Linked DNA regions of Homo sapiens: region 2 is linked to region 1. Evidence: fine-mapped expression QTL. A gene starts in region 1. The other region holds a variant in brackets. All regions are shown on one strand. Distances are between the middles of the regions. Region 1 holds the start of DEPDC5 (DEP domain containing 5, GATOR1 subcomplex subunit). Region 2 overlaps DEPDC5 (DEP domain containing 5, GATOR1 subcomplex subunit).

Region 1 (4,392 bases):
TCACATATGTTTTATTACAAGATAAACAATTTCAGCCAGGAGTGGTGGCTTGGCCTGTAGTCCCAGTCCCTTGGGAGGCTGAGGCAGAAGAATCACTTGAGCCCAGAAAATTGAGGTTGCAGTGAGCTATGATAGAACCACTGCACTGCAGCCTTGGCAACAGAGCTAGACCTGGTCTTGGGGGAAAAAAAAGGCCCGGCTACAGTGATTGGTGCCTGTAATCCCAGAACTTTGGGAGGCCAAGGCGGACGGATTACTTGAGCTCTGGAGTTTGAGACCAGCCTGGGCCACATGGCAAAACCCCGTCTCTACAAAAAATACAAAAATTAGCTGAGCATGCACCTGTAATCCCAGCTACTAGGAGGCTGAGGTGGGAGGATCGCATGAGCCAGGCAGGCAGAGATGGCAGTGAGACGGGATCATGCCACTGCACTCCAGCCTGGGTGAGGGTGACCTCATCTCAAAACAAAAACAAAAAAACAAACAAACAAAAAAATTGCAATTACTTAACACTTGCATTATTTACCTAACTTCTCCTGAGTCCCAACATAAAGGCATCCATGCTTAAGAACGTTGCTTGTCCTGTCCCAGGGTCCCCTTGGTCCACTGCAGAATCTTTCACTACAGTGTAACATGTTTTTTCTTTCAACATTTTTAAGTTTTCCAAATCCGTAAGAAATGGGCACTGTTAGTATTAAAGATATAAAGAAATTTAAGACAAGTGCTGTGTCGTTTAGATTTAGCAGTCAGTGTGATTAGAAGCAGCAGAGGAGAGGCGTGACCCAAGACACCGATTCTAGTTATAAGGTCTCTCTGGCTTCAAGAGGGGAAGCAGGGAGTCCCTATCGAGTTGCTGCCGCTCAGGTCAGAAACGGTGGACTGGACTAGGGGGCGGGGGTATCAGTGGCAGCAGGCGGAGCTGGCAATTGTCAGGAGTCCTTGGCCAGAGCCTGACCCAGCCCACCCAGCTCTCTGGTTTTCTGCTTGGAGAGAAAGATATCCTGACAGACGCGAGTTTAGGCAGTGCCCTGGGTATGACCAAAGGATGTTGGTTAAAGGCCCCGTTCTGGGAACGGGTCAGGATTCGTCCTTGCTTCCTTCTGAAGGGTTTTGTGTCCTCAGGCTGTTTCCTGGTTTGTGAAATAGGATAGTATCTGCCTCCTGCATCCATCAGGTAATAGGGATGCAATGATTACATAAGGACTATGAAGCCACGGCAGCCATTCTTATTAATAACCTGAGGGGCGCAGAACGTCGTTTAGAGTTTGCAAGGGTTTGAAAAGCCCCCCGTAAGTGGACACTTCCCAGCAGAGGCCATCACCCTAACTCTCGCGTGCTCAGCCCCTTGCATTTTACAGAAGTCCTCCCAGAAACTCTCGTTGGCGCCTCTTAGCTGCCCAATGAGGCCACATGAGTCATTAACCTCGTTCATATAACAGAAAACGGAGCTCTGACGGATCTCGTTTCCCCTGTGGGGAGATCACTGAGTCGGAAACGAAGCTCTGTGGCCATGGATCTACTTCGGATAGACTAGGAGGAAATGGATTTCCTCCGTGGGGCGGGAGGCTCTAGTGCTCGAGGGCAGGAAACGCCAGGAGGTGGCCCAAGGAAGAGGCCGCACACGACGCCCCGCCCCCGGCTCGAGCCCCGGATGAGGAAGTGGTGCGGCCACCGAGACGAGACGGAGGCCCGGCGAGAGCGGCGCGGGGGCGCGAGGGCGGGAAGGAGGCGGGGCCCCGGGGCGGAGCCACCGGAGCGGCGCGGGTTCTCAGGTGAGCGCTACACGGTCGGGGCGGGCCTAGTAGGCGCTTCAGGCTTAGGGGCGGAACAGCGCGGGCCGCGCGGGCGTAGGCGGGGTATCTGGAGGAGGCGCAGGGAACCTGGAGAGGGTCCAGCCCTCAGTGCCCCGGCCAGAGGCGGGAAGGGGCTCTAGAGCTTCGGTGAGTGGAGCTGCCCGCCCCGGACTGGGGATTGGGGGGGCTTGAGATAGGGGACCTTGGCCCAGGTTCGAGTTCCAGGCTCCATCCCCATTCCGCTGTGTGACCTTGGACAAGTCTCTCTCCCTCTCTGAGCCTCAACGGCCTCAGCTGTGAAACGGAGTCAGGGAAGGTCTGCTGAGAGTTCGCACAGACCGAGGTTTGGGGAAGGAACTTCTGCCTTCCTCCTCTTTGTGGTTGCCTTGCTCAGGACATTGGCAGCAAAACGAGAATGGTGGGAGTGTCTCTTAAGTCTCGAGTGACCTTGAGCAAGTCCCTTGCCCGGAGTCACACTTTCATCATCTACAAAATGAGTGGGCTAACCTCTTTTAAGATCTCTTTACTATTTGGGTGTTATTGGTGTAGATGGAGACAAGGTGATGAGCACCCATTCAGCGCAATGCTTCCCCTATGGGGGTGTGATAGAATATCTTCTCCTAGGTTTGACTAGCCCCTGGCCCGAATTCCCCTTAGTTCCTGGATTCTGTGGTTCTATTTGTTCTCCATCGCTCCTTGTAACTGGAGGAGTGACTTCTTCCGAGAGTCACTTGGCACCACTTCACAGCAGAGGAACACCAGTATCTTCACTGGCCTAAAATCAAAGAGTGGTTGCAAGGAAAAATCTGACATTCCAACCTTTTCGTTTGTATTTCTGTGGCAGGGAGGCAAGATGACTTCTCTGCCCCAAGCTTGGAACAGCTAAAGGGAAAAACAGTGCAAGATGAGAACAACAAAGGTCTACAAACTCGTCATCCACAAGAAGGGCTTTGGGGGCAGTGGTCAGTATCGATTGGTCTTTAGAGGTTTTGTAAGTTGGCTGAGGTTCTGGTGTGTGCAATACCTAGAAATTACACACTGACTCGTGTGACAATTGAGGCTAAACAGGCGACTAAACAGACTAAAGCAGCAACTGTCATACAGTAACAATAGGAGGATGGCAGGACCCTTCTAATGCATTTGCATTCAGACTTTTAAGGAACATTGTGAATGCTGCCGGTTTACTACCCTTCATTTGTTGAATTGCATTATTAATTACAAATCTTCCGTGTATGTTCCATAAAATTCCAGCCTGCACTGGTTTGGCAGATAAGAGAAACTAAAATCGTTTATCAGTTTTTACATTGAGTGAGAGAGAAGTGGCATAGATGTGCATAGAGCAGGTATGATCAAAGCATGAACCTTTGCCTGGCTTGTAGGCATGGGAAGAAGGAGCAGGATACAGCATGTTATTCTGCACTGAGCTATAGTCTGAGTATCTACTCTGCTTCTAATTTTCCTGGTGACCTTGGGCAAGCTCCTAGTGTACCTTATCTGAAAGTTGAAGGGCTTTAGAATAGTTTCTCTTAACATCTATTTTTTTTCCTTTCTTTTCTTTTCTTTTTTTTTTTGGGACACGGTCCCCCATGTTGCCCAGGCTAGTCTGGAACTCTAGAGCTCAAAAGATCCTTCCACCTCAACCTCAACCTCCCTAATAGTTGGGATTACAGGCGTGAGCCACTGTACCCAGCTCTCCTTAGTGCCTTGAATCCATAAATCTGAAGAATAAAAGGGCACTTAGTATAATTTTTTTTTCTTTTGTAAGGGAATAATTTTCCATTCTGTCTTAACAGCATTATTTACTTCAGAAATTGGAGTTAACAATATAATGAATCTTTTTATTTTATTTTATTATTTATTGGCATTTTTTTTTTGAGACAGAGTCTCGCTCTGTCACCAGGCTGGAGTGCAGTGGCGTGATCTCAGCTCACTGCAACCTCCACCTCCCAGGTTCAAGCAATTCTTCTGCCTCAGCCTCCCGAGTAGCTGGGACTACAGGTGCATGCCGCCACACCTGGCTATTTTTTTTTTTTTTTTTTTGTATTTTAGTAGAGAGGGTTTCACCATGTTTCCCAGGCTGGTCTCGAACTCCTGAGCTCAGGCAATCCGCCCACCTTAGCCTCCCAAAGTGCTAGGATTACAGGCAAGAGCCACCGCGCTGGCATGAGTCTTTTTAACATTGTATTTTAGGGTGTATTTACTTCTACATTATGTAGGTATAAGCCTCCAGAGGGGAAGGACTGCCAAAAAGGGAAAACAATAGTTTCTCTATCATAGAGCATTGTGAGGCTTAAGTAAAGTGATACATGTAATGCATTTAGCAGAGTGTTAGACTCTGTGCTCAATAAATGTAGCCATTGTAATTACCAGGCTACAGGCATTGCTATATTTAAACTACAATTTCTGCTAAAATGCACAGTCTATTGTTATTACTTTGATGCTGTTGATGTTGCCTAAATATTTGTGGAGTGGAATAAAGCAAATAACTTTTGGCAGAGAAAAGAATACAAGGATACAGTATATACAACGTATACAAATACATGTTTTTATGTATAAAATACAAAGGTAGTTAGATGCTGTATCCAGTCTTCTGCAAGAC
Region 2 (4,392 bases), 61 kb after region 1:
ATGCCAGAAGGGCAGCCCCGTTGGTGGGCTTGCTTTTTCGTTCTGAGCTTTTGCTTCTCTATAGGGCTTCTTTCTTTTTGATCCTTCTTCCTGTTGCTTTTAGAGGTTTTCCCCTTAGGGAATTTTATGTTTTAATAAGGCTATATATATATATATATATATGCATATATAAACTTTTATTAGGAAATGTTCAGACGTGCTCAAATAGAGAATAGTATCATGAACAGTTATCACCATGTTGTCAGCCTTGTTTCATGACCTCTCCCACGTTTAAATTTTGGATGGAATATTTTAAAAACAAATCCCAGGATTGGCCGGGCACAGTGGCTCACACCTGTAATCCCAGCACTTTGGGAGGCCAAGGCAGGTGGATCACTTGAGTTCAGGAGTTTGAGACCAGGCTGACCAACGTGGTGAAACCCCGTCTCTACTAAAAATACGAAAAAAGTACCCAGGCGTGGTGGTGGGCGTCTGTAATCTCAGCTACTTGGGAGGCTGAGGCAGGAAAATCACTTGAACCCAGGATGTGGAGGCTGCAGTGAGCTGAGATCATGCCACTGCACTCCAGTCTGGGTGACAGAGTGAGACTCCGTCTCACAAAAACAAACAAACAAAACAAACCCCAGGCAGCCTCTATTTTTTTTCAATAATACATACTTCAGCGTAAGTTTCTTTCTTTTTTTACATGTTATTTATTTATTTAGTGTCACCCAGCCTGGCACAAAGCTGATTAGTATATGTTTCAACAAATAAGAACTAAAAGAAAACCCATCACGGTACCATTATCATTGGTAACAAAATTAACACTAATCCCTAAATGCCCTCTAATAGCCAGTGCATAGTCAGTTTTTTGAATTGCCTCAAAAATGTGCTTTTGCAGTTAGTTTGAAATGGGACCTAAACAAGATCCACTTTTTGCATTTGGTTATAATGCCTTTTGTGTGTGTGTGTGACAGTAGAATGTCTTGCTTTCTACATTTGGCTGATTGTTGCCTTGTAGTGTTTCAGTTTTCCTCTATTCTGCAGATTCCCTGTAAACTGGCAATTATCTCTGGAAGCTTGATTAGATTTAGATTCAAATTTGAGGGCAAGTAGACTTCTTGGGCACTATGTTCTTTCTCCCACATCACATCATACCTCTCTTCTCATTCTGTTTTTAGTGATGAGAGATTAATCAGTGGGATTAGGTGGGGTCAGCCTGGAGCAGTCCTTTCTTTACAACTATGATCCTAGGACTTTGGCTGCATAATGTCTGTCATTTCCCCCCTCTCTTATATAACATCTCAAGCTGTTAAGGGTGAAGTACCGCATACAGGTTTCCCACTTGTAGATCACACTGGGGATTTTTGTTATTGGGTTCCATGTGGCTTGGGCTGGTGATGGGTTTTAGTTTTAACTCAAGGTAGGACAGCATCCCTCGCTTGATGGTAACTTTTTGTCTCTTGCCTGGCAGATCTGTGCGAGAGCGAGAGAGTCACAGTCGAAAGAGTGCCAGCTCCTGTGATGTTTCATCCAGCCCTTCCCTACCAAGCCGCACACTGCCCACTGAGGAAGTGAGGAGCCAGGCTTCTGACGACAGCTCCCTAGGCAAGAGTGCCAACATCCTGATGATCCCACACCCCCACCTGCACCAGTATGAAGTCAGCAGCTCCTTGGGATACACCAGCACTCGAGGTAAGAGTGCTGAAGCACAGACAGAGCCAGGGACATCTTTCTTAATATAGTGGGTGACTGGAGGTGGGAGGATTGGTCAGAGGTGGGGTGTAAATCCCACATCTTAATGATTTCTTTGCCAGTGCAGTAGGTACAAATCACTTTAGCTGTTAGCTATGTATATATTATACTTCTTTTTTTTTTTTTTTTTTTTTTGGTGACAGAGCACCTAGG[A/C]TAAAGTGCAGTGATGCAATCACAGCTCACCTCAGTGCGGCCTTGAACTCCTGGACTCAATCGATCCTCCCACCTCTGCCTCCCAAGTAACTGGGACTATAGCATGCCACCACACCCAGCTGATTATCATATTTTTTTTTGTAGAGGTGGGGAAGTGCAGTGATGCAATCACAGCTCACCTCAGTGCGGCCTTGAACTCCTGGACTCAATTGATCCTCCCACTTCTGCCTCCCAAGTAACTGGGACTATAGCATGCCACCACACCCAGCTGATTATCATATTTTTTTTTGTAGAGGTGGGGTTTTACCATTCCCAGGCTGGTCTTGAACTCCTGGACTCGAGGGATCCACCCATTGGCCTCCAAAAGTGCTGAGATTACAGGCATGAACCAATGTTACCGCACCCTGCCTCTATTATACTATTTTTTGTTTAGCCTTTCTTCATCCATCATTTAACTGTATGCCTTTCCATATGTTAATGGAAAGCTTTTCTTAGGCCTAGGGTCAAAAGGGTTTATTTCCTTATGATTTCCATTTGTGCCATATATAAAACAACCTCTGTCTTAATGTTGCATTTTAGTTTCTCATTTACCGGTCGGGCGCAGTGGCTCACACCTGTAATTCCAGCACTTTGGGAGGCCAAGGCGGGTGGATCACTTGAGGCCAGAAGTTTGAGACCAGCCTGGTCAACATGGTGAAACGCCGTCTCTACTCAAAATACAAAAATTAGCTAGGTGTGGTGGCGGGTGCCTGTAATCCCAGCTACTCAGGAGGCTGAGGCAGGAGAATCACTTGAACCTGGCAGGCGTAGTTGCAGTGAGCCGAGATTCCACCACTGCACTCCAGCCTGGGTGACAGAGGGAGACTCCACCTCAAAAAAAAAAAAACAAAAAACTTTTTTTTTCACTTACCTGTTTTTTTTTAACTTTTATTTGCATTGATTTTGTACCGAATTTATTCCCATACTATCAGTTTTTGTTTCTTCAGTTTCTTTCTTTTCTTTTTTTTTCTTTTCTTTTTTTCTGAGACAGAGTCTTGCTCTGTTGCCCGGGCTAGGGTACAGTGGCATGATCTCAGCTCACTGCAACCTCTGCCTCCTGGGTTCAAGTGATTCTCTTGCCTTAGCCTCCCAAGTAGCTGGGATTACAGGCACACACCACCACACCAGCTAATTTTTGTTTTTTTAGTAGAGATGGGGTTTTGCCGTGTTGGCCAGGCTGGTCTCAAACTCCTGGCCTCCAATGATCCACCCACCTCGGCCTCCCAAAGTGCTGGGATTACAGGCGTGAGCCACCATGCCTGGCCTTGGGATATCTTTTTCTTCTGTGCAATGTCCTCTTCTGGTTTAGGAATAATTTATTCCTTTTCCATGAGGATCATCTTGGTTTCGCAGGGGGAGCTCATGTATGGGTTAATCTGACCATGAGCTCTTTACATCAGGCAGCACATCTTGGGTGCTTTGTTCACCTGGACATGCTCAATGACCAGAGGATCTGCACCTGAACCCTTAAGTTCGGCATGACTGTGCATTTTTAAGCATATGTAGCAATAATTCAGTACTCTTTTTTGGCCACTGACCCCGTGTGCAGCCGTGCTGTGTGGCCTGGGACCACCTACTATCTCCATCATTGTAATGTGGAAATGGTACACATTGTTTCTGTAAAGTGACATATTTCTTTCTTTCTTTCTTTCTTTTTTTTTTGTGATGGAGTTTCACTCTTGTCCCCCAGGCTGGAGTGCAATGGCGTGATCTTGGCTCACTGCAACCTCTGCCTCCCGGGTTCAAGCAATTCTCTTGCCTCAGCCTCCCGAGTAGCTGTGATCACAGGTGCCTGCCACCATGCCTGGCTAATTTTTGTATTTTTAGTAGAGATGGGGTTTCACCATGTTGGTCAGGCTGGTCTCGAACTCCTGACCTCAGGTGATCTGCCCACCTCAGCCTCCCAAAGTGCTGGGATTACGGGCGTGAGCCACCTTGCCTGGCCAAAGTGACATCTTTCATATACTTGGTGGCTTTTTATATATGCATACCCTTGATGGCCTGAGCAGTTTCATGGGTGGTTTCTTTTATTTGTTTGTTTTGAGACAGGTTCTCACTCTGTTGCCCAGGCTGTAGTGCAGTGGTACAATATTGGCTCACTACAGCCTCAACCTCCTGGGCTCACGTGATCCTCCCACTTCAGCCTCCCAAATAGCTGGGACTACAGGTGTGCACCACCACACCCGGCTAGTTTTTAAAGTTTTTGTAGGGACGGTCTCAATCTGTTGCCCAGGCTGGTCTCGAACTCCTGGGCTCAAGTGATCCTTCCACCTTGGTCTCCCAAAGTGCTGGGATTACAGGAATAAGCTACTGTACCTGGCCTGTACTCATCTTTTTTTTTTTACTAGGTTTTTCTCTTTTATTTCCTTAATAACTAACTAGACTATGTTCTTTTTTATTTTGTAAGTTAGAGCATCAATTCATTAATTTACAATGAACAGTAAAACTTTCACAGAAATCTGAACA

The links.
Region 2: its variant is fine-mapped to the expression of DEPDC5 in whole blood (TOPMed, PIP above 0.99). The same link has a PIP of 0.9 or more in blood mononuclear cells.

The regions. Positions count from the first base shown.
Region 1 is chr22:31,752,225-31,756,616 of GRCh38, forward strand. It overlaps DEPDC5 (DEP domain containing 5, GATOR1 subcomplex subunit), which reads left to right and starts at 1,795. Exons shown (of 43, transcript NM_001242896.3): 1 at 1,795-1,940; 2 at 2,638-2,755. The coding sequence starts at 2,698. RefSeq lists a silencer at 1,560-1,869.
Region 2 is chr22:31,813,539-31,817,930 of GRCh38, forward strand. DEPDC5 (DEP domain containing 5, GATOR1 subcomplex subunit) reads left to right here. Exons shown (of 43, transcript NM_001242896.3): 21 at 1,454-1,674. It also overlaps the pseudogene RPL17P52. Among named protein-coding and RNA genes, the nearest start is that of DEPDC5, 62 kb to the left of the region's middle. The variant A/C (reference allele first, on the strand shown) is at 1,888.